2 separate regions of the Homo sapiens genome follow, and region 2 is linked to region 1. Evidence: fine-mapped QTL for protein levels in blood plasma. A gene starts in region 1. The other region holds a variant in brackets. All regions are shown on one strand. Distances are from middle to middle.

Region 1 (15,096 bases):
CATATTAATCGTTACACTGATTTGAACTATTTCAGAATTTAACTGAGCAAAAACAATTATCTTACTTTTAAACTAATTCCTGGCAGAATGGTACTCCTATGACCTTGCCTGATTTAATGATAATGTTGAAAGCAATGTTTCCTTGACATGGTAGGTGTTCTAATTAATAAAGTTGCTATCCATGCTCTAGGTGAACTGTACAATTTCAATGAATTTGAACATATTATTTAGTTGCATAATGTGATTTACATTAAAACTACATGAACAGTGTATATTCTACCAAAAATAATTTAGAAGATGAAGTAGGATCTCTGTTATATCCAGGGTCCAGAGTGGGAAAGAGGGGGTTAACATCAAACTTCCCAAATTTCCACAATGCGTGTAATATTTCACTAAATACATTCACATTCATGATTTCGTATTATTTTCCCAGTAATCCTATAAGTTAGGAAGAATAGGTTTACTATTTATAATTTTCAATTAAAATAATGCAGCCACAGAGAAGTTAAGTGACTTGTCCAAGGTAGTGAGAGTCTGGAACTCAGGTCTTCTTGTCTCCAAGTGCAGGATCCTCAACAGCAGATATACTGTACGGGTACAGGGCAGAAACATGGGTTAATAAAGTATGCTGTATTCTCCTGATAGAAAGTTGAATTTTAAAACTACTATTAGCAAACTCCAAAAAAACATGAACGTTCTATGGCCAGTGGTTAGAATGCAGAACAAATGAGGCCAGGGTCAAAAGCTCAATCCCCACAAATGCTGGCTGTCTTCTTAGCTCTGTTTCTTGGCAAGTTGATTTTACCTAACTCAGACTCCCTCCAGCTACAACCAGGTGTCTCACAGATGTGTGCTCTTGGACACAGGAGGGGACTGGGTGAGAATGTGGGAATGAACAGGCTCCAATCCATCACTACCACTGGAAAAACAACACAGTGAATGTTCCACTAATGATGCATGAGCCATACCACCTATGTGCTTGGAAGATTGTACACACACACACACACACACACACACATTCATGCATGAAGTACACACACACACATGCATGCATGAAGTATCTCATTTGATAAAAACATGATATAGAAAAACAAAGGCAGACAAAATAGATAAAATAAAGACTAGTTGTTTGCAAAAATGATTCACTGTTTATTCATTCAGCAAACACTTGTTATGGATGGCCCATGATGTGCCAGGCACAGCTTTAGGTGCCAGAGTGAATAAAGCCTAAAAATGTCTATCCTTATGGCATTATGTTCTAGTGGAAGACAGAAAATCAACAAGGACAACATATAGTTTGTCAGACTGTGAAAAATGCTAAGAAAAAAATAAGGACTGCCAAGAGGTGGGGAGTGCTGTGGGAAAGAGTAAAGTAAATAAGGGGATCAAAAGGCTTCACTGAGAAAGTGACATTTGAACAGAGACCTGAAGAATATGAGAAGCAAATCATGTAGCTATCTGGGGAAAGAACCATCCCAAGGCATGAAAGAGTAAGTCCTTGCAAAGGACCCCAAGTATATGCCATGCTTGACAGATTCAAGCAAGCCCAAGGGGTGGAGGTCAGAGAGGTTGGAACCTGAGTGCAGATCATGTGGGGCTGCAAAGGCCATAGGAAGGACTTTGGCTTTTATTGGAAGAAGATGGGAAAACATCTGAGCAAAGTAGTGATCTGATCTGGTTTAGTTTAAAAAAAAAATCACTGCTGTGTTTTGGCTGCTGTGTTGAGAAATGGGCAGAGGCAGGAATGCTAGTGGGGAAGCTGGCATGAAAACCTAGCAGGAGAGGACCATGGCTTGGCCAATTTGAGGGCCACAGAGGAGGAACACCTGAAGGAAGCCTGCAGGTATTCCAAAGGTGGAGCCAACAGCATTGCAGCCACAATGGATGTAGGTGTGACAGAGAAGCTTCAAGGAGAACTAAATTTGGGGGCCGGCAACTCAAAGAATGGAGTTGCCATTTACTATGATGGAGAAGACTATGAGAAAGGCAGATATGGGGGAGAAAGATACAGAATTAGGTTTTTTAAACCTAAGTTTGAGATGTCTATTCAGGAGGAGCTACCTACCCACTAAGCATTGGTTATTTGTGAGGTCCAGGAGAGAGGTCTAAGCTGAAGAGGTTATTTGGGAATCATCTGTGTATTATGGTTTTATATGATACCCTCTATTGGTGTAAATGGAATTATTGTAATAAAGTTTTGCAAGAGCTCATCTGTTTCACAAAGCAAGATACCCTTGTGTATAGACTATATGCAGTAGTCCCATGGTGAGAAGTTGTCCTGAACTCCTCCCCTTGAGGTTTGTGTGGTATGACATCTCATTTGCCCATTTCGAAGGGATTAAATGCCTCCCTCCTTTCTCTATCTTACCATATCCCCAAGAGGCAACCATGTGGTCGCCAGCAGAGAATAGCTCAGTTGCTCTTGCAGCACATTTTAAAGCAGATGAGAAAAGCCTTCACGCTGAAATAGAAATATCTCAGAGAAAACTTGGCTCCAAGGCACCCCAAGAGAGTGGGGGGGGTTCCTGATATGGGAGGGCCCAGCAGAACGCCTCAAGGCATCACCTTCCTCAACATGCACAAATGTGGCTGCCATAACACAAAGCTTCTATATAAATATGTCAAGGAGCACTCCTCTACTCTAGGAGGACAGAAAATTGTCTAAACCTAAAGAAGGGTGTGGAGAGGGGCAGTGCAGAGATAGGCTTTCCTAGGCATTGCCTTACACAAATGGCAGATGCTTAATTAAAGCATTTGCAATTAGCTTAGCTTGTTCTGTGATTCCTTCCTGCAAACAAATAAGATGGAGAGACTATATTAGCTCTTGGCAATCTAGTTCTAAAAAAACTTTCATCCCATCATCACTCTTTTGTCCTGTTCTGAAAAGCGCTGAACCACAATGTACACAGAATAAACTATCTGACTTAACTCCTGGTTCAAAATAGTATTTTTCCTTCCATTTCATATAGGAGTGCAACTACCCATTTACTTTTAAAGCATAACTACTTATTTTGAATTTAATACAAGTTCTTAATTTGGATGCCTCATTTTTATTTGGTGAAGATAACAGTCTTCCTAATTCTTGCTACACTTCTGATTCAACACATTAGACTTCACTAGTGCAATGTTACCCGCCTACTCAAAATACAACTGCTATATGTGTTTAATGTTGGAAAAAGCATTTACTAGATTTTGGAAGAACTTGAGGGGTGTGTGTTGTGTGTAAATAAAAAGGTGCACTTATTGCCGCCTTATCATAACCACTCACTTGAAGGCATATATTTTTTTTTTCACTGTAGGGAAAATAAAGAAGTCCACTTTAAGTGGACAAACATGAACCATGTGTGACTATTTATTTCATTCATTCGACATTTACTTGAGTGTTCTATACTGGTTCTTATAAAATTTTTACCTATTTAAGCTTAGTTGTTATGTCCAATAAGTATATTCAGCTGATGGCTCCTCAGAAATGATTTTCGGTATCTGCTTAACATTTACATATGTGGATTATATGCGTTATTGAAAATGTAGCACATCTCTAAAAGGTGATAGCTGCAAAACCTAACATATGGGGAAGGTTGTCACCCACAAACACTGTACATCAGAAACATAAAGTAGAATGCTTCTTTACATCAAGTTGAAAAATGACTCATAACCAAAAGTAAGATTTTAAATTTGATGTTCGTTCTTTTCTGCTTTAAACTGGTTTGCAAAGTGCCTCATTCAAGAACGTCCCAAAACCAAAATAATAACAGGGAGTAAGGGTTACTCAAGATTCAAATAAAAGTTACCATACAAACAAGCATGGGTAAACCAAATTCAAATAGCTAGTGCAATTATTTTTTAATAGATAGTTTAGGTTAATAGGTGGAGACATAGTTCTGCCACTGTATTTAAGGTTAGGTTAATAATTAACTTTGGTGCCTGGAGTAGTTTAATCAAAGCTTACTGTAAATCATAAAACTGCTCCATGTAGACTAAACACAGCATTAAAAAGTCATACAAAATTCTTGCAATCTTGACCGCTGGTAGCCATTTGGGTACGGTATAAAAAAGTGTAGAGTATTTTTAGTCAGAATTAAACATAGGCATCTTTACTTTGGGGAGAAAACATAATTAAATAATTAATTAAACCACCAGTCCTCCCCGCCATCACTGTAGCATACCACAGACTTGATGCCCAAGATGTGTCCACCAGGGGAAGGACGACGAACAATTTCAGGACTAAAGAAAGACAAGGCAAAGGCACTCGACCTTCCCATCCTGGCAAGACTTAAAAACCAGCGCTGGGGGGCATTAAATAGCTTTTCTGAGACCTGCTGGCACAACACTGCAAGTGGGTTAAACGGCTTTTCAGATCTGAGGTAAAGAAAGTTGTGCGTACAAGGGCGAGTGTGTGCGTGTGTGTGTCCATGCACGCCTGTGTTTTAAACCTTTCACAGATCGCATTCAGTAGCGTAAAAAAGCTGAGCGTAAAAAAAGGAGCGATCCCACTGTGGCTGTGCCTGGCCACCGCAGTTCCAAAGCAGCCACCTTTCTCCCAAAGACCGACGCGAAAAAGCCTGCAGGGCTCCCCAGTGCGATACAGGCCGGAGACTCCCTGGAAGTGCTTGCCCCGGCTGTGAAGACAGCGCCTCCAGTCTCCCATTCCTCTCCCGCTCCACGCACACCTGGCTCTGCTTCCTCCCTCCCTGGATAGCCACGCTGGGAAATCGTGCGCAGGGAGCAGATGGCTCGGGATTCTGCACCTGAAGCTGCCTACTTGCAAGCCACTGAGCCCCGGCCTGTGTCCACACGCACCTTCCCCACAGCCTCTGTCCACAGTGGCCGCACCTGCCTCCGGGGTCCTGCTTCCCCATTCATCCCTTCCCCGACTTGTCGAGCAAGTACCGCGGGCCAGGAGGTTCCACTCTCCAAAGGGCCGGGATCTAGCTCCTAGCTGCATCCCGAGCTGTCCGCATGATTCCCTCCAGGTCCGGCTTCCCTCAGACTGCACATGCTGAGCCCCAGTCCGGTCGTGCCTGCCGCCCCTGGCTTTCAGGGAAACTTTCCAGGAGCGCCTGGTCTAGTGACCCCGCCGCTGTAAAGTGGGAGGAGGCGCTGGGCGGAGGGGCGGCGAGGGAGCGGGAAAAACAGCGGAATTCTGTTTCCTTTCCCGACGTCCACAAGCCCGGGACCGCTCCCTGGCTCCCCCCGTGCCGCTCGGGTCTTGCGAGGAGGGAGGAGACCTCAGGATCCTGTTTTGCACCATCTCCCACAGCGAGGAGCTGAGCAAAACGCGGAGAATCGGGACAAGAGACACTTCCCGCCCCAGAAGGATCAGGCAGGGTGGGTGGGCACTGCCCGGCTTACTCTCCAGCGCCCCATTGCCCCCATGGTAGCGCCCTAGGACACAGTGAGGAGTCGGAACAGAGCCCTAGTCTGGGTTTCAAACCCAGGGCCATCTTCTGCCAGGTCTCTCACCCTTCCCCCTCCTGGGTCATCTTTCCAGAGCGAGACCGCGCTGATCTGGGAGGAGGGCGTACCGTGCGCCAGCCCGGTGCAAAGGGCTCGGTGCTTCAGGAGGGACGCAGCCGCGACGGGCTATATCCTTGCCGCTCGGGTTGGGAGCTGCGGCGGGGGACAGGACCCATGGCGGGGGCGCCGCGTCACCCGAACGGCTGCTCCCGGACACTTATTCGAGCAAACAAAGCCCGGAACCTCTGGTGGCAGCGGCCACAGGAGCCAGGATCTCACCGAGAGACAGGGCGCGCGGGTGCCTAGAGCCATTACAAGTTTCTTGCACTCCACGGAGCCCAGCCCAGACCCCACACTGACAACAAAAGATTCTCTCCGCTTCCACACCGTCTCCGCGGAACCCCTTCTCCCACCTGGCACTGGACGAAAACAGCGCTGTTATACCCAACCCCCTCCAGCCCTCGAGGGCAGAACCCCTTCCCCTGCCTTCGACACACCGGGCCAGGGAGCTTCCGAGAATCCCACCATTTAGGGCCCGCTCTGCTCCCTGCTGGGCACGCGGGAGGATGAGCCTTGGGTCTCGCACACACACCCCCAGGAGGAACAGCCATACGCGCCGTCGCGGCCCGGGGCGGCGCCGGGCGTGTGCGCAACGCGGGTGGGAAAGCTCTCGACGTGGAGCCGGACGCACTCTGGGGCGCAGGGCAGAGAGGAAAGGCAGGCAGGGCTCACGGCTGCTCCCCCAGGACCGGGCAAGGCTCGGGAAACAGAGACACAAGACAAAATAAAACGCAGGCACCACAAAGCCGACAGCACGCGCTAGCCACGGCCCCGGGACCCTCAGGCTGGAGTCCAGCTGCCCGGGAGGTGGGGCGCGCCCGGGCGCCCGGGGCGTACCTTTTCGGTGCATCGACGGACAGGCGGCCGGGGCTCGGAGCGAACTGGTACAGCGTGTATCCCATTTAGTAATCCATTATCGAGGGGATCTCTCCGGGCCGCGGGCTGCGCTCTCTCCTTCGCAAGCCTTTGTCATTCCTACATGTGTGCTTGTCTCTTTGGGGGAAATAGTCGCGGCGACTACTTTCTGGGATGCAAACGCGATGTGTTCATCTCCAATGACGAGCGGAGAAGGGGAGAGGAAAAAAGAAGCCAAAAAAAAAAAGAAGAAAAAGAAAAAGAAAACCAACAAGGAAGAGGGTAAATGTTCAAGAAACTCTTCTCCAAATCCAAATTCCACTTGGATTCCACTTCGGTGAGTCCCCTTGGTGGTGTCTGCGCCGATTAACAAGTCATTTCAGGGCGGGGGGCGGGGTGGGGGCTGGGGCAGGGGTGCAAGGCTCTGGCCCGGCTCTGCGGCCGGCAGCGCGGTGCCGCGGGTGTGGTGATGCTGGCCGCTGCTACACGCTGCTAAGCGGGCATCGCGGGCGACCGGCACCGCGGAGGAGCGCCGCTGCTGGGTTCCGAGCGCCTGGGCAGCCGAGTGCGCGGGGAGCGGAGTTGGCTGCAGCCTCACCCCGTGCCGCTCACTACTCCTCTGTCACCGGAGAGGCCGCCGCTCCCGGGCGGAGCCAAGTCCCGGACTGGATTGCGCAGATCGGACTCTCCTTCCGCAACTCCGCCTACTTTGGCTGGCGTCTCCTCCGACCCAAAGGAGAGCTGTGGTGTATGTGAGTGCGAGTGAGCGAGGCAGAGGCGGAGAAACTACGCGGTGTGGCTGCAGGTGGAGCCTTGGACCAACTGGCCAGCGCCGCTTCCTTCCACCAGGATTCCTGGCCCCACCGCGCGCTAGGCGGAGGCTCAGCGGGGGCGACTCTGGCTGGAGCCCAGCCCTCACCTCCCCCACCCCCACATCTGCTCTAGCTAGGAAAAAAAAAAAGAAAAAAAAAATCCCGGACAGCATTGCTGAGTCCTGCCAAATCAGAAAAATAAATAAAAATAGACGTAGTGCAGGAGCGAGTTACAAGAAAGGTTTTGTTCATCGATTTTCTTAAATGGAAAAGTTTTAAAGGATGAGGGTAAGTGAACGGCGAGCTTTTCTGATTCTGATTACTGTTATCAAGAGGTAGATTCCAGAAGCGATGGACGCTCTACGTAGTTAGATGAATTGGATAGAAGCCGGTGCGGTTAAAAATACACTTGGAAGATAAGAACACAGCTATTAATTACGCACATACACACGTTAATAAAGCATGTGAAGTAAGCAAATAAACTACAGTGCAGAGAATGGCGTTTTTAACGACGGCGATCTATTTTAAAACTTAATGAAGTTCACATTTTGTGGACTGGTCTTAGAAATAAGTAAACTTCAGAAATAACACGCATACAATTCCAGTGAGAACCCAAAAGGTTTATGGAAGAAGAAAATCGCAACCACTTCCAAGGCGCTATTGTTATGATCACATGAAGAATGGCAGGCACAGCCTTCTTTCACCACTTGAACTTTCAATAGCTACAAAGTCTTGCAGTTACAGGCTTGTGCCAACTCGTCGGGCCACACCACGTTCCCCTCCCCCTGCCGCTGCGCCCCGAAATCAACTGCGCGCCGCGGCTCTTGCTCCCCAAGGGGGCTTCGCAGATGGTACGGATCCTAGTCGCAACCTTTAAACAAAGTAACATCGGGCGGCCCAGCAGTTCTCGGAGAGATATTTACTAGTCATGGAGTTGGCTGAGAAAAGCAAGTGCGGAGATCGGGGTCTCAGTCCCACTTAGGCCGAGTTTCTTTATATTGGAAACTGTACCTGTTCCCTAATTGGGACTAAGACCACTAATAAGTCCACGTTCCCTCTTTGGTCGCTTCTCTAAGTACAGACATCTGCTTAAGAGGCTTCACGAAGAATAAATGCACATGGGTCAACACCCATTCCCCCCGCACCACTACCACCACCTGGAAAAGGTAGGGAGAATGGTAGGAAAAAAAGAAAAAATCAGTACCCCTGCTGTTCTCCAGAGCTGTCAGCAGGGGCCGCTATCCCCACCTTTCTCGGGCAAAGGCCTCTATAGACCTGGGGTAGTGGGGGGCGCGGCCCTAGGTGCGCGCGCAGCCCCCGCGGCTTCAAGAGCCAGCCTCGGGAGGGGGTTGGGGAGTGTGGGGCGGTGGGTAGGATTGCGCTTTCCCGCGGGTTGGGTGGGGGCCGGCTCCAGGACGTCTCCTCAGAATCCCGCGGGGTTAGGAGAAGGATCTGGCGGCCAAGACGGCTGGATCCCCGGCTGCGCTATTTAACACCCAGATTTTGGCTGATGACTGCAGGGTCAGTGTGAGCTGGTCCCCTGGCTCGTCCGTGCGCCCCAGGCGCGGTACTGCAGCCCCTTCGAAGCTCCGGACCCTTCGGCCTCCGGGGTTTTTTGTCCCGCGCTCCACCCAACCGGGGTCGCCGAGGCTCCTTCTTCGCTCCCCGCCGCCGATTTACATGCTAATTGTGTCTGGGAAAAGTTCTTAAATTGGCAGAATTAGGCAGAGCAAACGAATTGTTTCACAGGCCGAACTAAATTAATTTCGGGTTTAGCTCCTTCCCTTAGAGAAACAAACAATTAAGTTGTTTTATTTGCTTTATGGATATATTGGAAATGCCCCACAACGAGTTTCAGGATATTGTTTAAAGGGACATTATATTCAATATTAATACTTGCATGTTTAATTTGTAGTAACGCTGAGCCAAGAAGCGAGCGATTAAATTTACCTAATTTAAAATTATAGAATACGAGAGTTAAAGAATTGGAGTCTACTTTTCACAGTGAAGAAATACCACCCAGAATCTTCCTGGCAATTACTAGATCCTAGTCTCACCATCCAAGTAGGAGCCCTTCCTTCTGACCACGTGATATTACATTTCCACCTGCCAGAAAAGATGCTCCCGGAGCTGGAAGAAAAGCCAGCTATTGTCAGGCTCCCGAAACCCCCAGGGGAGCACCTGTGGGGAAGCCAGGCTATGAAACCTCATGATGTCATTTCCCCATAAGTGCGCCTCAGACTCACTTCCAGAAGCCTGCAGTAAGTTTTCAGTAAAACCACTGCCCCTTCAAAGCCTTTGAAGTCTGCAATTTATACCCTGTCCCTTCAGGAAAAGAAAGCCAAAGAGTTAAAGAATCACAGAGTGATGAGAAGGTGACTTCAGTGGTTTTTTTTAAAGTGACGTAAAATGGAGTGTTTGAGGCCCTGGTCTCTGGAGGCCATCTGCGGTTAATGTAACTTAGCTGGTGATCTTGGGCAAGTCACTTATCTCTGTGAAGTCCCAGTGGATTCACCTGTAAATGGGGATTCTTATTCTACTCACTTCCCGAGGAGCTCGTGGATTACATTAGATGATCTTCGTAAATTCGGAGTCTAAGGCTGACACTGCTTTATAAAGATTAAGTGTCACATTGTCATCCTTGCCATCCTCCACATCAGTCCTACCATCACATTTTACAGGAGTCACATGGAAGCACAGCGGACAGAAGTGGCTTGACCTGTGTCAGCGATTGGGTCAGGGCTGGGAGCTACCTGTAACAACTCCCCCTCCCCTTCTTCTTCTTTTTTTTTTTTTCAATTTTTGAGACGGAGTCTTGCTCTGTTGCCCAGGCTGGAGTGCAGTGGCGCAATCTCAGCTCACTGCAAGCTCCGCTTCCCGGGTTCACGCCATTCTCTCTCCTCAGCCTCCCGAGTAGCTGGGACCACAGGTGCCTGCCACCACGCCTGGCTAATTTTTTTGTATTTTTAGTAGAGATGGGGTTTCACCGTGTTAGCCAGGATGGTCTCGATGTCCTGACCTCGTGATCCGCCCGCCTCAGCCTCCCAAAGTGCTGGGATTACAGGCGTGAGCCACCGCGCCCAGCCACCCCCTGCCCTTGTTAACTACATGACAGTTCCCGCTTTCCTCAGATCACCTGGAAAAGTGTGGCGGAAGATTAAAATAAAGCAGAAAGATAAACTCAGGTTCTCTGCAAAGACCACATCTAGCTGTTTGATCAGAATCTCTGCTTTGAGACAAAAAGGAGTAATGAACTTGGGAGAAGAAGGGGCTGCTGCTACTCACAGTTCCTTGAGGGTTCATGGGGGCACACTTGGGGAGCACAGTTTGTACATTCAGGCCATTATAATTTATAATCAAGAAATCTATCTGTACCCTCAGCCCCTTCTCCAAAGTTCCCTCCACCTCTTTGCCTTAAGTCAGTGGTTTTAAAATCCACTTGCACATTAGATGACCAGGGGAGCTCTTCAGTGATGCAAATCCCCAAGCTCAAGATTCTCATTCATCAGTAAGGACTGGGACCTCGGCATGGGTAGGTTTTAAAACTCCATAGATGATTCTCATTTGCAGCCAGGGATGAGAACCACTGCCACAATAAATCCTGGCTGTATTCTAGACCAATTACTTTTCCCTAGCCTTTTTCTTGTGGGGGCTGTTTCTTCTTCTTGTCCGTTTATTCCTCTTCACAAAGAAAGGTCCGTATCCTTGCTCCTCATGCTGCTTTCAGGCCATTTCTCCTCCTCTAAAAACCTCTGGCTGACTTTGGTAGCTAAACTCTACAAATACATTTGTGGTCTCATTTTATCCGATTCTTCAAAGACTTATTGTCCTCCTATGTGTCCCTCCACCTGTCATGACTCATGGTAGTGTTAACATCCATATAACCACTGACCCTCTGGCTTTTCCATTTCTTGCCTTCCTCATCTATGCTGTCTTTCTACTCCCCTCCTCCACCTACTCCAGGCTTCATTCTGGGCCTTATTATCAAAAATGCCCCATCTTCCAAATCACTAATTCTGACATCCTGCTTTCCAATCACTTCTTCTCCTTCAATCTTCCTTGCTCATGCACCCCCCTGCATTCACTGATTTCTTGAGGACCTCCAGATTTTGAGTTTTGCTTCTCTCTCGATCACCTATTCCCTCCTTATTTCATTCCTCTCTATGTCTAGCATAGCTTCATAGTATCAGTCCCTCTCTCTTGCAAATACTTTCAATTCTGTTGCTCCTCTATCTTTGGTCAACATCTATCTGACTAAAAGCTAGTTCTGAAGTATGTAAACATCAGCCGTCTCTGCTTCTGAACTGGGCAGCTGAAGCCTGCTGGAAAAAAAAATGTAGATAGATTGTTATCAACCTCAATCTCATCCAAAGCACCGCCTTATCTCAGTTCGTTTCTAACTTTCTCCCCGTAATCAGATATCTCACACTTCATACCTCGTACTTCCCTGAAAAAAACGCAGTCCATCAGAAGGGAACATTTTTGCTTCTGTACTCATTATTTTTTCTTTCTTTCTTTCTTTCTTTCTCTCTTTACTTTCTTTTCTTTCCTTTCTTTTTCTTTTCCTTTCTTTCTTTTCTTTTCTTTTCTTTTCCTTCTCTTCTCTTTTCTTTTCTTTCTAGATGGAGTTTAACTCTTGTTGCCCAGGCTGGAGTGCAATGGCACAATCTTGGCTCACTGCAACCTCTGCCTCCTGGTTCAAGCGATTCTCCTGCCTCAGCCTCCCAAGTAGCTGGGATTGCAGGCACCTGCCACCATGCCCGGCTAATTTTTGTATTTTTAGTAGAGACGGGGTTTCACCACTTTGGCCAGGCTGGTCTCGAACTCCTGACTGCAGGTGATCCACTCGTCTTGACCTCCCAAAATGCTGGGCTTACAGGCGTTAGCCACTGTGCCCGGCCTGTACTCATTATTTTCTAAGTGTCTCTTCTTATGAAGGAGGCAGTGTCCCTCCTCCAGTAGGAGGCCAGTCCCTCCTTATGTTCCCAATAATTCACAGGTTCTCAGAAATTCTGTCCTATTGTCTCCAGACCCTCTCCTGCATCTGCCCATCAGCATGTAAGCAAGCTTCGGTCTTTCCCATCTTAGAAACAGTCCGCCTTGGTCGCCGGGTGTGGTGGCTCACGCCTGTAAACCCAGCACTTTGGGAGGCCGAGGCAGACGGATCACGAGGTCAGGAAATCAAGACCATCCTGGCTAACACGGTGAAATCCCATCTCTACTAAAAATACAAAAAAATTAGCCGGGCATGGTGGCAGGCGCCTATAGTCCCAGCTACTCAGGAGGCTGAGGCAGGAGAATGGCGTGAACTTGGGAGGTGGAGGTTGCAGTGAGCCGAGATTGCACCACTGCACTCCAGCCTGGGCGACGGAGCGAGACTCCGTCTCAGAAAGAAAAAGAAAAAGATAAAGAAACAGCCCACCTTGGATCCCATTTCTTTCAAGCTACTCTCTTCTCTCCTCTCTTCCAAAGCCAGACAGCCCCAGAGATTGTTGATAACCAGTGCTGCCACTTCGTCCTCTTTCATCTACTCAATCCCCTTTTGCTAGTCTTCAGTGACATTCATGACAGTAAATACAGTGGGTATTTTAACGTTTTCATTTTATTTGAATTATCAGCAACAATTGTTTCTTGTGACATACTCTCTGCTCTTGGCTTTGATGACACACTACTCTCTCTTGGTACTCCTCTCACTTTTTTTTTAACTTAGTTTTTCTTTTGAGGAAATTGAAACATTGTCAAAGAATAATATAACCAACATCCCAATTTTCATTACTCAGAATTAATGACTGTTAATATTTTGTCATTTTTGTTTACTGTCTGTATTTTAAGAAATAAAACATGGTGGATAAAACTTAACTTCCTCATCATCAACATCTCTTTCTTACTCTCATTTTCTTTTTTTATAAGTAATGATATTATGAGTTTTCTGTGCATCCTTACATTTTGTTTCTGTACTTTCACATATACCATATGTATCTGTAACCAATATATAGTAATATTTTTGGTTGCTTTTTCTCCCAAATTAACATTAAATTCTATTCTCTCTTGTCCTCTTATTCATTCTCCAGATTGTAGTCTAAGTGATCTTTGAGAGATGCACATCTGATCACATCAAGCCTCTCTTAAAACACCTCAGAGGCATCCATAGACACCCCTAAACCCTAATACAGCCTTAACATTGTGCATGATTAGTTTCTTGCCTACCTCTCTGGTCTCATTTCTGCCGTGCTCCCATCACTGTCTCCCTTTCTTGCAGCATCACTGGTGTTTCAGTTCCTGGAAAGCTCCATGTTTCTTGTTTGTAACTACAGGCCTGCCCTTGTGCTCCTGCCTGGAATACTGGAACTTCCCCTCTCCCTGTTTACCAGACTAACCTCTACTCATCCTTCAATGTCCCTGCCTCCAACAAGACTTCCCTGATAGTCTAGAATAGATCATATTCTCCATTATGTATTCTCAAAGTACCCTGTGAATTTACCTCATAGTGCATATCAGACATTACAGCTAGTATTAATATTTGGTGCAATTATTTGTTGAATGCTTCTCTTTCCTGTTAGATCACAAGTTTCTCAAGTCTTCGGACTATATCTCTGTCATTTATCTTGTATCTCCAGCACTTAACTGAGAGTAAGGGTACATAAGTGAGGGCATGAGTTAGTGAAAGCAATTAGTTCCTTTTCAAGGATTCAGTAGGATAAGGAATAGATCCTTGGATGGAATAGGACCATTTAAAAAGGAAAAGGGGAAAAAAAAAACTCTAGACATATATCATGCTCTTCAGATTTTGAGATTCCAGTTCTAAGGATAAACAAAATCTAGGCTTTCTCCCAACACAGAATTTCGACTATAACGTGTCTAATTTGCTTTTTGAATGGGGAGAAAAAGATTTATGGATGAAAGTGACGAGTAAATATAACAATTTCAAAAACAAGATGCTTAAAAATAAGATGCAATAAGAATATAAATAGAACTCTAGAAGGCTTGTGGAAGGAGATAAACTGCAATTTGAATTCACTGGGAACAATGTCAGAGCATCTCCAAGGACCAGCTCTCCCAGCAAGCTAGAGTTTGCTAACAGTGATTTACTGTCTGCCCCTCCATGAATAGCTTCATGGTGGGACCCCACCCTGTGTATAACAATCATTCCACTGTACCACAGTGGAGTTTGTCTCCATTCACTTCTGATATCAAATTATTGTTTGGGAAATTAAGAGAATGTTAGATGAGAAATAAGGTAATGAATGAACAATACATGTTAAGTAAACCAGAAGTCCATTTTTTTCCTCCACAAAAGCTCTTTACATTTAGTTGAAATCTCTAGTTATGTAACACAGAGTAAAGACTGTGTTTGGCCCTGTTTTCTTCTTTCTGTTGCAAAATAACTTCTTTTAATTGCCCCACCTACTAATATTTAGACTTAAAGATATCTACTGGGATGTGAGTTTGTTTAAAAATGCAGTTACCTAAATGTAATTTATACTTTTCATAACCAGATAAACTGGTTGATTAAGTACCACTTTGGAATTTGCTATTTGGCCAAAAGAATGATGAAAATTAAAATATACTTGTTTTTGAGAACTGCCTTTCAAGGCCTTTGCTTCCAGGTAGTGAAAGCCCTACTAGAAGAGAAGATTGTTCTGGCACATGCTTAAATATAAAACTATGCTTCAATTTGTTCCAATTCTAGTTTTTAGATTATGTGAGAAAACTCTGTACTGATATCAACTGAAAGATTTTTCCAGGCTGTTTATTATAATGAATGTGTATTTAAGAGTAATTTTATAACCAGAGAAATGAAGACAACTAAGGATGTTTTGTTTGCTTTAACATTGAAACTTTAAAACAGAAGACAGCTGTTTTAAACATCTAAACTTAGGCTGGATAATTGGGAACAATGAATGTTCTTAAA
Region 2 (14,623 bases), 130 kb before region 1:
ACTTCTGTACAAGAGACAAGTCATCACCTGGTTTCAAGACAAGGGAGAGATGCGGGTTTCTAAGAGTTACTGAGTCCAAGCACCCAGCTGTCACAGGGCTGAGCCAGGAAAAGGATTATGCTCTTAATCATGTTATTTTGTTACTAAAGCGTTCTTTTAAATTCCCCTCACCACTTCCCCTCAAGCAAAATGTACCAGTGTCTGAAATTAGAGGTGCTTTTCTGACACTTTTACTTGCTGAATGACTTTTTGTTGAAAGAGCTTTTGTTCAGGCAGTAAAACCTAGGTGCTGGGGTCCAGGAGCATCTTATTTGGCTTCTGCCAAATTACAAGGCTGAACAATGAGACCAGTTTGTGTTTATCTGACATGGGCCTTTAGGAAAACATTCAGGTCCAAGATGTCATCTCTGATTCCATGAAACACCTAGCCTGGTAGCTGCATCAGGACAGCCACTGCTTTGGAGAAACAGTCTAAAAACCTTGTAACAATCAAGCTAGCAAGCAAACACAATTAAAAATCAGGGTTGTCTGAGGCAGTTTTCGTGTCTGAGCAGGGACATCCGGGGGGCCCCAGCTAAAATACTGGCTGCACCTGTTCAGCCTCTTTCACCTCTTCAGCAGCCCAGAACAAAGCTGACTGCAGCAAAAGCCACCAGATCAAGTATCAGGTTGCACTGCAGGGACTTTATACCTCAAGCCCATGTGATCCAAGCTTTTTTCCAACCCCATGCCTTGACCCAAATGAGGGGATCTAGGAAGCCCAGCTTGTGAAGGGTGGGTGTGTATGAAGGGCTTCCTGTGAGAAAGGATGACTGAGAAAGATGCAGATGCTGTCTAGATGGGTGAGCAGGATCAAGTCTTTCTAGCTAGTATTGCTCTACTGATCTGAATGAATTGGGGAAAGAGACCATGAATTTGTCTTCAGAATAGCTGCTCTACCACTAGTTTTGGAGCATGAGCAAATCCTTTCACTCAGTGGACCTCAACTTCCCCCAGTTTTTTGTTTTTTTGTTTTTTTTTGAGATGGAGTCTGCTCTGTTGCCAGGCTGGAGTGCAGTGGCACGATCTTGGCTCACTGCAGCCTCCGCCTGCAGGGTTCAAGTGAGTCCCCTGCCTCAGTCTCCTGAGTAGCTGGGACTCCAGGCACACGCTACCACGCCTGGCTAAATTTTGCCTTTTAGTAGAGGCGGGGTTTCACCATGTTGGCCAGGATGGTCTCGATCTCCTGACCTCGTGATCCGCCCACCTCGGCCTCGCAAAGCTTCCCCCATTTTTAAAATGAAAGGGTCATACTAGAGGTTGGCCATTCTGTCAGTTCTAGATAAGACATTTGGGTATAACCGGGCAGGGCTAACCTGTCAATTACATACAGTGGAAGTTCTTTCTGGCAAAAAGGACTCAGCTCTGTGACTGTTCCTTTTTGCATCTGAAATTGGATGTGCGGTTTTCACTTGTGTTGCTCTCACCCACTTGGCATGCCATCTGGCACACTGCCCAGCTGGCCTGCAGTCCCTCTCTAGGCCAATTCACTTCCCACATTATGGCCAGGTAGCTTTCCCAAGCACAAACGGTGTCTGTTGTTTTATTTACTCCAAAGCAAGGGAGCACTCCACTGCTTCAGCTAAATTCCTAGCATATGGGAACCAGGTCCCTCCTGGCCTGTCTCCAACCACCCTTTCCCAGACTTGCCCTGCCAAGCTCTCACAGATCCTGCACAAGGCCTGCTGAACCTTTTGTTTCCCAAAGAGCACACTTGGTGCCTTTGCAAAGGATGTCCCCTCTGCCTGAGCTAGTTGTTCAGAAAACTTGTTCTTTAAGAACCAGCACAAATATTGTTACCCTAACCTCTAGGGAGCTTCATCAGTACTTTGTTCGTACCTCCAAATGGCAACTACAAGGGCCATGTCGGTCTCTCTTTGCAAATGAGGAGGTAGAAACTATATTCTAGTCAACTTTGTGCCAGGCGCTATGGATGTAATTCAAGAAACACAATTGGAGATGGCAATCTAAAGGTTACTGGGCCACTATAGGTATGAACTGAGGCCTCAACCTGCAGCTTCCCACACTCAACTGACTTAAAGCATCAAAAAAAAAAAAAAAAAATTTCAGAGGGTCAAAAGTAAAATACTGTAGCTGAAGACTTATTTAAATAATTGTTTTAAAAACACCCCTAGAGGAAAACCTGACCTAGGCATTTCATAATGCTCTTTTGCAAAAGAAATAATGCTCTTTTTGCAAAATAATGCTCTTTTTGCCAAAGAAAAATCAAAGGCTGTGTCCCAATATACCTCCAATATACCCTCTGTGTTACAAAAGATAAATGCTAACAAGGAGTAAAATCCAGCCCCCTCCACCTTATTAATATGTAAGAAGACTGAAGTCACATCTGTGCAAGGATCTATTTTTAGTGGACCCTACATACTAAAATCCTAGCCTTGATCTCTTAAACTATCAAGCCTACCATAAATGTTTGATGATGAACAAGCCCATAAAAAGAAAATGCATAAAATGAATAGAAGGAGCCAATGCATGCTCTGCTTTTTAATTACCGGTGGCTTCTGCTAAAATCCTGCTCCAGGCTGGGTTTGAGCAGAGAAACACGTCAATAATTTGGGTGGGGGTGGCTGGGTGTGGACACTGCAAACAAATACATCAAACTATACCGTTATGTATGCTTTGGAAGCCAGATACAAATGGAGGAAAGAGTAGCATCATACCCACAAAGGGTGGGGAGGAGAGCAGCTTAAAAAGGAAAAATTAAGAGATAAATAAAAGCATTCAGGACACAAAAGATAATATAGAACAGTCAGGTTTTATTACTTTTAAGTAATAAAGAGCCTTTTCCTTGCTTTTCTTTTTTCCCTTTTTTTCTTTTCTTTTTTCTTTTCTTACAACATACATTAAGTCGTGAATCAGATGTTAGGGGATGTGGAGATGGAAGGAAAATTGGTGACATCACAATATTTTTACAACTTTACAACAAATATAAATCTGAGTTTGTTGCATCTACCAGTGTCTAGCAAGGGTGGAAAGCAAAGGCACACTCGGGTTTATGGACCCTCCCCCCACACACAGTGGGGAAAAAAACTGGGGAGAAATACTTAAATGCAGAAGACCAGCTCAATACATGTGGGTATTTTAGGGTTAACACCAGAAGTGATGGGTTGTGGGGGTGTAGGAATGTGGATGTAAGTTTTGACACAGGTCTCCTTAACAGCTGAGGCAGTGATGCCTACAAACACTGGACAAGACAGCCGCTTACGTCAATGATGGGTGCTGCACTGCCAGTACTCTCGGGAGTCAAGCATGGGAAAGAAGGGGGCAGGGGGATACAGACCCATCACCTTCCTAATTTCTGCATTTCTAGAGAAAATTCAAGGAAGAAAACAATATTTCAGGTTCTAGGAAATACTTCAGGGTTTCAGGAGACAGAGTTCACAGGATGTGAACATGGATTCCATTACAAAAGCCAAAAAAAAAAAAAGTAAAAACAACAACAACCACCTACTCCTAAA[C/T]AACAGCAAAACTAATGGACTTTTGGAACAAAGGGCTCTCACCCACCCTCAGCTAAGTACTCAGGTCTGAAGGCAACCACACTGATTATGGAGGCTCCACTTTTTCACTATCCAACTCAAAACTGTCATTGTCAGTCTTTTTTTGAATTCTTTTTAAAGACAAAACTAAACCCAGAAGATCGAACTGGAAATAAAAGCAGACAAAGAGACCACCAAATATACTGTTTAAAAAAACAACAACAACACTGCTCATGGTTTACAGTATGTGGACAGTTCCTTTGTTCATGATAGAGTAAACAAAAGTCCCTTTTGTGTGCTTGAGCAAATGAAAACCAAGAGGAGAAAAACACACACCACCTCCCATCCCCTAAAAACATAATTAACAAAATAAAAAATAAAATAAAAAATCCTTTGCCCCAGTCAACGTTTTTGCAGCATCCATTGTGGTCGGCCTTGTACTTGGAGTTACTCGTTAATCACAGCAGGGACCAGCCTGCCTGCATCTATTTCCATGTCATTTCTTTGTGTGCACTGCACGTGTGTGCTGTGCACATGGCTTGGAGACTCCTCCCAGGTGTCTGCCCAACCGCGCACCGCCTGCTCTCTAGCCAGTGGACGCAGCAGAAAAGAGGAATGGGACGTTAGTCCCTTTTCTGCTAGCAAATAAGGATATCACCGTATTGAAATAATCTAAGGGAAGCAGGGAGCTCTTGAGGATGAAAGGGGATTTGACACACCCACAACAACACTGGGGTCCATGCTTCGCAGCACAGCCAAAGGGTGGTTCCAGTTGGCACAACTAGAAGGCAGTGTGAATTGGAGGGTGTGGTGCTGCCCAGCGTTCTCAGGCTGTCGCATGACAACTATCACCACTGCATTCTTCCATCTGCTTGACTCCAATCTTTCAGAGGGCTGGAAGTGGGGCAGAGGGTGGGGAAGGGAGGGTTAAATAAATATCTGCACTTATTTCAAAAGGGGGAACAGTTGATCATAAAGAGTTTACAAGTGTACACAACTCAAGGTGTAAGGCACAAATTTACATGTGGAAAACAGGCTATTCACAGATGTAACCCCACGAAGAACCCGTGTGATCAAATCATTAATTTATGCAAGGTAGCAGCCAGCATATTAGTTCACACCATTTGTGGATTTTGTTTGCTGTCTCACATGCAAGGTGAAATGGGATGGCATATTGCAAGCTGGTGCCTTCACAGAAAGTCAGAACCATGGACAAAACCATGTTGGCATCAATGAGATATGATGTGCCATTCTAAAAGCTTTCTCTCCTGATTGCTTTAGAAATTAGGATCTGGAAGGACTTTAACATGAATTAGTTTTTTTGCATGTTTATAGGCCAGAGACCTGACCAGGCAATGAACTGATAGATTTAAATAAATATTCCCCTCCTAACTTTTTCCTTTAGCTACAGACCAGACAGTCCAAACACAAAGCTCAGAATTCCAGCTCCAACTTATTTACTCAGTGAATTTATTGTAAAAATAAAGAAACTCAATTATTCCAGTTAATGGATTTCACGTTAAATAGTTTAACTTTCAATGGGCTTTCTGAAGAGCTGTTCATAGGATGATATTTGGAAGAGTCCTTTCCTTAAGGAAAAAAAGGGTGAACAATAAATAAAGAGTTACTTGCGTTAACGGTCACGTTATTTCATTAAAAGAGAGGAGGAGCAGAAATCTATGACATAGTTGCCCAACATGGCATTTATCTGCTGCAACAGAAAGCTGTAACACTGGCGGGCATTTCACAGTATTTGCGCATAGTAAACTTCTGCCATTGTTAAAGTCTGAGTTAGAATTATCAATGAATTCTTTTTTTTTTGTCTTTTTAAATTTTCTTGATTTTAAAAAATGTATTTGTGTTTTGCAGGTTGGAACGCAAACCCAGTCTGGCCACGTCCCGTGAAGTTGTGGACAAAATGTTTCAGTTTCTGTTCACCTCTGTGCGTGTGTGTGTATGTGTTGTGTGCATGTGTGTGTGTGTGTGTGTGTGGGGGTGGGGGATGGGGTAGGTATGTGCTTTTGGCTCATGTTTGTGATGATAACTGAAGTCTTTTGTGGGTCCGACCTGTTGTAGGGTGTGGGGGAAAGTGAAGGAAGAGAATGAAGGTGAGTCCCCGCCGTTGCAAACCTTCACCAAACCACGCGGCCCAGTTTTCGTGAGTACCCCTGTGTCCCAGAGAGGAGGACCCAGCGTCCTCGGCTCTGCCGCAGGCCTTCTTGGTCTGGTGGGTACTCGAGGCAGTTGAGAACCTTGCTGAGCTGAGCGGGCACCTCGCCTTGCCTGCTGGTTCGACACCTGACCCCCTCCCCCTGGGATTATGTACACGCATCATTGGGCTTCATGGATGTGGAAAGGGGAGCAAAGGATGGTTTGGGGGGTACGTCCGGCTTTAGCGAGGGCGTACGCTTCAGCCCCGACCTTGTCAGTGAGTTGTAGGCGTTGAGGCTGGGCTGCCTCGAGACAGTCACGGCCTGGCCAGATGGCTGGGAGCTGTGCACCTGGATGGAGTCCACCCTCTGCGGGGCGGGCGGCGGGTTGTCTCCCCTGCCAAAGCTCTGGTTTCTGGAGAGGTGAGAGGAATTGGAGGAGTTAGTGTTGTTTCTTTTGAGAGTGGTGGCCTGGTGGCTTCTCGTGAGCGAGTTCGTGGGGTAGCTCCTCTTATAGTCAACCCCGTAGGAAGAGGAGTGGTGCATTTCCAGCCGCTTGCTTAGACCGGTCTGAGACAGGGAGGCTCCCGGGGGACCCAGGGAGGCCTCCCGCTGTGGAACTTTGGGGGGCAGGCTGTCCAGGTTCTCCACAAGGTTCACCCCATGGTTGGGACTCTTGCTGCTGAGATGTTCCTTGATGGTCTTATACTCCAGTGTGGCGGCCTGGTCCTCCAGCGCCATCTGGGCCACCTCGCTCATTTTGGGCTGGTCCACGTACTCATGCTGGTAGCCCTGCTGCGTGATGGGCAGGACCACCACGCTGGGGATGTGGCTGGGGGAGGCCCGCAGGGGCAGGTCCGTGGGAATCACAGGGGAGCCCATGGGGGGCATGTCCTTTGTGCAGGCATTGATGAGGTTCTGGTTCCTCTCCCACTCGCGGCTGCCGCGGCTGGGCTTCCGCTTCTGCTGCAGCGTTGGGGTTGACTCTGGGGTGGGGAGGGCCGTCAGGTCCAGGTGGTGCTGGTCTGCTTTAATGAGCATCTTGGCCGTGTTGCCGGGAGTGGCGAGCTTGCCGTTGTGCATGAGTGGCGTGAGGATGGCCTCCGGCTTTGGGTCTTTGGATTGAGTGTCCCCAAAGAGGCCGCTGAGCTTGGTGACGCTGCTCATGGAGCCCCGGCGCGAGTGGGTGAGCTCCTTCTCCTTGCGCTGCACCACAGCCACGTCTTTGCGCCGATGATCACAGACGCAGTAGACGGTGATGCCCGAGAAGACGGCCCCCATGACGAAAGCCAGGATGACTGCAATGGCCAAGAGGGTGACGGGAACCAGCTGGTCGTGGCCTTTGAGGTAACTTTCCCGAATCACTCCTGCAATAGACATCGCATATGGCGTTAAGAAATGAAAGCACACCCCGAGGCTTGTTTTTGCTTGGCATTCACCTTGTTAATTAATAACAGTAGTAAGTGACAACAGCACCTCTGCACAACTTGTCTTCCAAGCTCAGCTTGCCAAACATTAACCAATTAATCCTCCCCAAGCCCCTCGTGTGCAGTATGTAAATGGACTCCATTTGTAGCCTTCTTTGTTGTCTAAAAAAGTGCTGTTCAGGCCGGGCACGGTGACTCACGCCTGTAATCCCAGCACTTTGGGAGGCCGAGGCGGGTGGATCACGAGGTCAGGAGTTGAAGACCAGCCTGGCCAAGATGGTGAAACCCCCGTCTCTACTAAAAAAAAAAAAAAAAAAAAAAAAAATTAGCCAGGCGCGGTGGCGGGGGCTTGTGATCCTAGGTACTCCGGAGGCTGAGGTAGAGAATTGTTTGAACCTGGGAGGTGGAGGTTGCAGTGAAGGGAGATCAGGCCACTGTACTCCAGCCTGGGTGACAGAGCGAGACTCCGTTTCAAAAAAAGAAAGAAAGAAAAGTGCTGTTCACTCTTTCCAGTACCTGCACTTTCTACTCTGCTTCACTCCAGGGAATATGGGAGGTTTTGGCTTTCAAAAGTTATCTTTCTTTCCTTCTTTATGGCTTTTTAACCTTCCCTTCCTAGAACTGGGATAACCAAGTTATCCTGAGTCTGGAGGAAGAGGCAACAATTTTATGCATGTTAGACAAACAAATCACACACTCTGGGCTTCCAGTTGGGATCTTTTCCGACGGCCCCCTTGTGGCCACCGGAGCCTCCGTCTGGGGAAAAGTGTTTGCCTTTTAAGCAACTAGAGGAAAGAGAGTGTGTGTCATTTTTATTTACACTGAGAGAATATAGCTAAAGTTCACAGACTACAAATGTTTGTGCTGATTTTGCATCACCTCTCAAAAAAAAAAAAAAAAAAAAACAGTGCAAACTCAATTTCAGGTAACTATCCTGAATATTTGAATGAAGCTTTCTCACTGGAACTGAAAGAAGATTCAGAAATAAGACCATTTGGGGCCCTGTAGTGGGTTTGAGAAGTGTTAGGTACCATTATTGCACCTAGAGTTTGCTGTCACAGTGGGATTTTTCAGCAGAGCTAATCTCTTCAATTTAATAAAAATTATGTGACTACACCCATCCGTAATCTTACACTACATTAACCAGGATTCAGTGTTTCTGAAGGAAGGTGCTTTCGCTATTCCTGCTTAATCAGCCACCCAGCTGAGTGACTCTAATCAAATGCAAACACAGAAGCTTTTATTTTTTAATACCAAGTGAGAATACACATCACAGTTGTCAGATCTTAAGTGCTTGATGCAGTCGCTAAAAAATAAAATCTCTAATACCTCAATTCCTGCCTCTGGAGAGTGAAAGAACATGAATACATTAGAGGCACTGCATGGGCTGAGGAAATGTAAACATTGTTCCTATTATGGAAATGATAGCAAGACAGAAAAGGTACCTTCTCTGGTCTCGGGAGACGCATTTTTCATCTACTAAATCAACTCTTTCTGGAATATGTTTCATGTATTTTACTGGCAGGTATCAGTGGCACAGAATTAGAATGAAAGGAAATAAAGATCTCTACCCCTTCCCAAGCCCACAACACGCAACCTTAAACTTCTACTGAAATGTTGTCTTTGTCACAGCCGAGACCTTGAAGCTTTCTCATGGGGGTTTTTCTGCTAAAATATTTTGATTTCTGAAGTGATGGTTTTAAAACCCAGAAACCTTAGCCTGAAAAGTACATTCTCTTTTTCTTTCCTTCCTAAGGGTCCTCCTCCCTTCAATTGTGACATCACAGTTGGTTGCTGTGGAAATGATTGTCCTGTGACAAAGGATTGTGACTTAAGTAGAAGCAGCAAATATCTCTTAAGAAATAAAGATTCTGTGATCCAACAAATACCCTTGGTAATAAAAGGCAGTCAAGGCAATTCACCATAAGGAAAGAGTGTACAAGACGGTAAGATATCAAATAATTTTCAAATGTGATACTTTTCAAATATTTCCAGATTTATCTCCATCAGCTTTTAAGGGGTAGAAACTGAGAAGCAAAAAACAGCCGGAAATTTGGCTGTAACTCACACCTTTTATGTGTGAAGCTCCCCAAACAGTGGGGTGTCCTGCATTCAAATATATTTTAGTACCTATTCACCAAGGAAATGTGCTAATGAAAATTTTCTTTCTTAAATTTGCATTTCCTTATTATGCTAAAATAGCTACTGATTTTTCTTCAATTTTGATTATGTATGGGGTTCTACCGAACACCGTTTTTAACCCCCTACATATAATTGCACAAAAATGTACACCTGTGGATAAAATGGTTTTAATTTCTCTCATTGACTTGGTGATTTCAGTGGGAGTTGAACACAGGCTAGACGGCCCCAGTAATGGGGTGGGGGTGTATTAGGTGTTTTTTTCATGGCAATGAGTATTTCATGAAACCCTTCCAGGCTACCAAATTTAGGGGGACTGGATATTCCCAATAAATGTGTATTATAATAGGAAGCTATTTACAATTGACTTTGGCATTCTACAATTTAAACTGCCCTCTCAGTTTAAAAGGAACGTGGAAAGAGTAAAGCTAGAGCAATTCATTGGTTTCACTGGGAAAACTGCAAATTTTTCACATGTATCCATTGCTTCTTAGCCTTACTTTTAGCTCCCAAATATCATTCTTCTTTCATGTCTGAAGGTCCTTGGCTATTTTAGACTCATGAAAGCTACTTATTCTTTCACTGGGAAGAACTCTTTTTTAGTGGATGATATTTGAGTTCAGGTTTTTGGTTGTTAACAAGTTAAGTAGGATCTGACCTTTCAGGAAAATGGTATCTCAGACAGATTTTTTCCCCCGTCTCATTTTGTTATATAAAGAGTGGCCTTAAAAACATTTTTGCATGTCTTCATCTATCCATGGGGAGGCAGAGGGCTTTCCTCATCTGCTTGTGTAAATTCAGAAACGTCCAAAGATGGAAACAGATCAGAGAGTAAGTTGAAAGTGCAGTTGAAGAAGATAAGGTAAACGTTATTTTTGGAAATGCCTTTCAAACTTAAAGCTTTCTGCTTATATCATGAAAAAGGCCAAAGAAGCATTCACAGAAATGATCAAGTCAACTTTGTGGAATAGCCATTGTGAAGGCTTGGAAACAGCAGACTTGTCAGTAGTGGTGATAAAAGCAGCTAGAGAAGATCTCAGTGGGCTTGGAATTGCAGGCTCCCACTTACTGGCTGGGTGACCTTTTGGCAAGTGACTTAACATCTCTGGGCCTCAGTTTTTTTATCTGTAGCATGAGGTGAACACACCTAATCTTACTGCCTTACTGGATTGTTACAAGAATCAAAGGAAATAAAAAATAGGAAAGAGCTTAAATGCTGTAGTTTGCTGGACAAATCTAAAGCTCAAAAGAAGCCACAAAGGAGAAGTGGTGGGTTAGTGGCTCACAGAGGGCTTCCAAGTGATAGTCGCAGCTGCTCCATTGGATTCCATTTGCTATTGGTCTCCCATGGGAGAGGAGTAGACCTGTGCTTCCAGGTCCAAACTTCGTGCCTTCTAAATGTAGTCAAAAAGGTGATATGAGATTTCGAAGCAATATAAGGGAATGCATACTGTTTCAGGATGCCTATAGTTACTGAATTTTGAAATAATTAAAACAACAGAAGTGGAAAATGTTGGCAATTATAGTTGGATTCTCAGTGGAGTGCAAATCCTGGGCAAGTACCACATTTTTTCGGCATTTATAACCCTTGCCATCCACAGAGCTCTTAGTTGGGTAACTCAACAAATGATGGCTGAATAAATGGGTTTTCAATACATTGTAGAGCTATTTTTAAATGAACTTCTAAACTTGGGAGGTAATCTTTAGAGTGACTATCACCCTTGCTTTTGAAGTCATGGAAATAAATTCTATCTCCAATCATATAAAAGAATTTTAATAGTAGCATCTATCAGACAAACAAAAATAAATCTATAATGGTGCTCAGTATTTGCTCAAAACAATAAGAAGAGAAACTATTTCAAAAATGAAATTAGTTCTGGGAAAAATCCAAAAGAGTCGATGACGATAAATGGGTTATTTACAACAACAGAGTGCCCCAGTGGAACTGAATAATTAGAAAAAAAAAAAATGCATCTCTGCAAAGGGCAAAGGGCAAAGGGCAACAGGCTAGAGCTGAGTATCCCTTGCTTCAGATGCTGCCTGGAAGCCCTGGGCAAGTAAAGGGCCCTTGGAGGGTGGTGTACTCCCCTCCGCAGGTATCCTCCCACTGCAGAGAGAACAATCAGAGTTGGCTTCTCTACCCTAGGGTCTTGAAATTCCTTCCTCTGCCAACCCCTGCATCCTCTTCTGCTCTTACCAATTGAAAATGGGGCATTAGTAATGAAAACAGTATTTGAAAAATCCTTTGCATTGATTCATTAACCACCAGCTATTTCTCACCAGTCATAAGGTGCTAAATGGTTAGTCTTTCCACCTTCCTATTGCAGGAAGCAAGGCACACCCTGGCTTAGAGATTTCTCTGAAATCATGTCTTAAATTGGCAGAACTGAGAAAGAATAGAATCTCCACTGTTTTTTTTTTTTTTTCCTGAGGTGAGAGTTTTCAGATGCTGGAGGGAGACCTCAGAGAGGAAATTTGAAGTTCTTTAGAGTCCAAAGCAATGAAAAGATTATGAAGGACCCTGCCCCTAGACCCTGCAACATGTGATTCAAAATAAGAACAATTGTAAACTGAAAACTAAGAGGAAGCCCAATACAATTCTGACTTTTCCTATGATGACCATGTTAATAAATTTTGAAATATCAAACACTACATTCCTTATTTTAAAAAATGTTTTCTAGTAGTCCTGCTCATGGATACTATTCCGTGCAAAGGGAACCTAGCACCAGGCTCTGAGACAATTTGCTTTAGAAATGATGTTTTCCCCTAACTTAGGGTTGGGTTGTTTCTTTATTATCACTCTCCTAGTATAACAAGGTTTTGGCTCCAAGCATCTTTGTGGCTGCCTTCAGCAAACATTTACCAAGCACTGCACTAGGTGTCGGGGAAGGACAATGATGAATGAGGCATAAACCAGCAGGGAAGAAGGCAAGTGCTTGCATACAACTCTGTCCAAAGTGTGGCTATGTCATGAGTTACATCACTTCTGCTTCAACAGTGGGCAAAAGCTTTACATTGGAAATGGCATTTGAGCTAAGCCTTAAAGATGCACAGGATCTTAGCTGGAGCAGAGAGAGCAACAAGAACTGAGCCTTGGAGGGAAGGAAAGGGAAGGCCGTAGTGAGTAATAGCAAATGGTCTAACTCCCTTCTAGTCTGTTAGGCTGGAGGCATGAGCCACCCTTCCATACTCAAGCTTGCTTCATGGCTCTCATACAGGCTGTTCTCTCTGCCTGGAATGTCCCTACTCATTTTCCCACTCATCAGACCCTATCTTTAGGGCTCAGCTTAAATGGGGAAGCCTTCTCTGACTCCTTAGGCCAGTTAAGTTCTTCCTTCTAAAGTGTCCCCAGAGCTCTGCATTCCCTTTATTCTAAAATCATCACTAGTATGATACTTGTTTTTCTCACCTAGACTGCTAAAACTCACCACTGAATCTTCAGGCAGAAAGGTGCTCAGTAAATATCTTTTAAATAAATAGTAAAGGAATGCATACATGAATGAGCACTTGTAGAGAAAATACAAGAGCAAGAGCTAGAAATACCATTTGGAAGGCTGTGGACAGCCTTGAATGATTAAAAAAGAGGTTTAGAAGATCTGCCACTCATAGAAGGAAAGTTCTTGGTTAATTTATCTGCAGTTTCTCTTGCCTGAGAAAGCTAACTTTCGGCTTGCTCTGTTCCACATTGAATCCATTATCGCAAAACTCTTGGCTTCAAAGAGTCAGTATCATTGCATCAAAAGCACAGCTAGTCTACCTGCATTTATTATTACTGTTTTTAAAATTAAAACTCTCAATCTTAAAGTATACTAATGCCCTGCACCTTACACAAATAGCTGGGAGATGTTATCTGTCCTATCAAAATGTGAAGCAAACAGACAAGCAAAAATACGTAAAATTAATCACACCTATTAAGCTAAATACAAAGGAAGAGCTCTACTCACCCCCACCCCAATTACCACCCTAAGCGTGTAAGACACAGGCAACCAGTAACCTAACTCGAAATGGTTAAGTGTGCACTTTCCCCTCTCACCCCCTTTCACTGGACGGCCCGTTTCTGAGCTGCTGTGATATGATGGATGTGTCTGTCTCCATAGTGAAGTGATTAATAGGCATCTGTGTAAAGTGGACCCGGTGACCACAAAGACAACAAAGCCTCTCTGTGTCCTTTAGAGAAATATGCAAAGGCAAAAAGGAGGATGGACATTTCCTCCATCACTGAGCCAGAGAGGGTTTGTGTTGGGTCTGAGAGCTAAGAAAGATGGCAAAACACCAAGAAAAGCCCCGGAGTAGCATCCCCTAAAAATAGATTCTTGATTCTGCTTTATAGTAAGACAAGCCTACAATTTCCTTGAAATCCTCATAACAACTTGAGTGAATGGAATCTAACAGCCCAATTTTTCTTGTTTGCAAATCTTACTGCAACAAAATTCCAGGCTCACGGTCCTGCAAGACAGTATAAATGAATGAACTAATCACTAGCCAAGCATCGCCCCGCTAACCACACAGGGCCCGCTGTAATCCCTATTAAGAAGAGAAGAAAACAAACAAGGGAAAAACCCTAACTGGAGACAATTTATTCTCAAAGCCACACCCCAGCCAGTCGAGGTGACCACGCTGAAAGTGAAATGGGAACTCTCTGTGGTTATCTGGGCAGGAAGCAGCCTTCTTCTTGTCTTACGGCATAATGTGAACCAGATGGCTTAGGAATAAACTGACATGCCAGCAGCCATGGAAATAGGCTTGGAGTTTATAACTTAAAGTTTCCTTTTCCTTTAAGTGTGTGTGTGTGTGTGTGTGCATGTGTGTGTGCGCGTGTGTGTGTATGTATGTGTTTTTCCTGGCAGGCTACAGATTAGGTACCAGGAGGGGCCATGGTCTTCAAGATATATAAAGTTAATGACTGACCATGCCAAAGTGGAGGTAGCTTCCTGGCCTGGCTGTTTAATGTCCTGAATTCAGAAGCTATTTTAAAACTCACATATTGAAATAATGCTTGGAGTGGTTGACTGTAGATGAACCCACTTCCACTTCGATCACCTTTAAAAGTGATGCATTTTTGGTTGGGATGTCATCACAGGGATAGAAGGGAGAATGAGCCTGGAATTCATTCTATTTCATTTTTTTAGAGAAGAAACAGCTTCATTTTTCCCTGTGTGCTGGGAACGCTCAGTTCACTGTTCCTCCACTGCTCTACTGCTTTAGAAATGGCATTGCCAATGGGAGTGCTACAGCCAGAGCACGGGCTGATGTCTAGACTAAGAGTCATGATAAGATAATTTTTAAAAGCCATGCCCTGGAATGCTGGTTTGTGGTTTCATGTGTTAGAACTGTTACTGTCCCCGTAAAGGTAATGATTCTTTTACATTGGCAA

Evidence for each region. PIP is the chance, under the fine-mapping model, that this variant and not a neighbour inherited with it causes the effect. Protein levels are from the aptamer-based SomaScan assay of Sun 2018.
Region 2: its variant is fine-mapped to the plasma level of the SEMA6A protein (Sun 2018, PIP 0.95).

Annotation. Positions count from the first base shown.
Region 1 is chr5:116,567,831-116,582,926 of GRCh38, forward strand. SEMA6A (semaphorin 6A) reads right to left here and starts at 6,993. Exons shown (of 19, transcript NM_020796.5): 1 at 6,355-6,993. It overlaps SEMA6A-AS2 (SEMA6A antisense RNA 2), which reads left to right and starts at 6,588. Exons shown (of 3, transcript NR_147170.1): 1 at 6,588-6,709. RefSeq lists enhancers at 4,270-5,051, 9,689-10,324, 10,325-10,958 and a silencer at 6,749-6,828.
Region 2 is chr5:116,440,762-116,455,384 of GRCh38, forward strand. It overlaps SEMA6A (semaphorin 6A), which reads right to left. Exons shown (of 19, transcript NM_020796.5): 19 at 2,794-7,050. The coding sequence ends at 5,852. SEMA6A-AS1 (SEMA6A antisense RNA 1) reads left to right here and starts at 6,737. Exons shown (of 3, transcript NR_109879.1): 1 at 6,737-7,030; 2 at 8,867-9,056. RefSeq lists a silencer at 13,943-14,022. The variant C/T (reference allele first, on the strand shown) is at 3,516.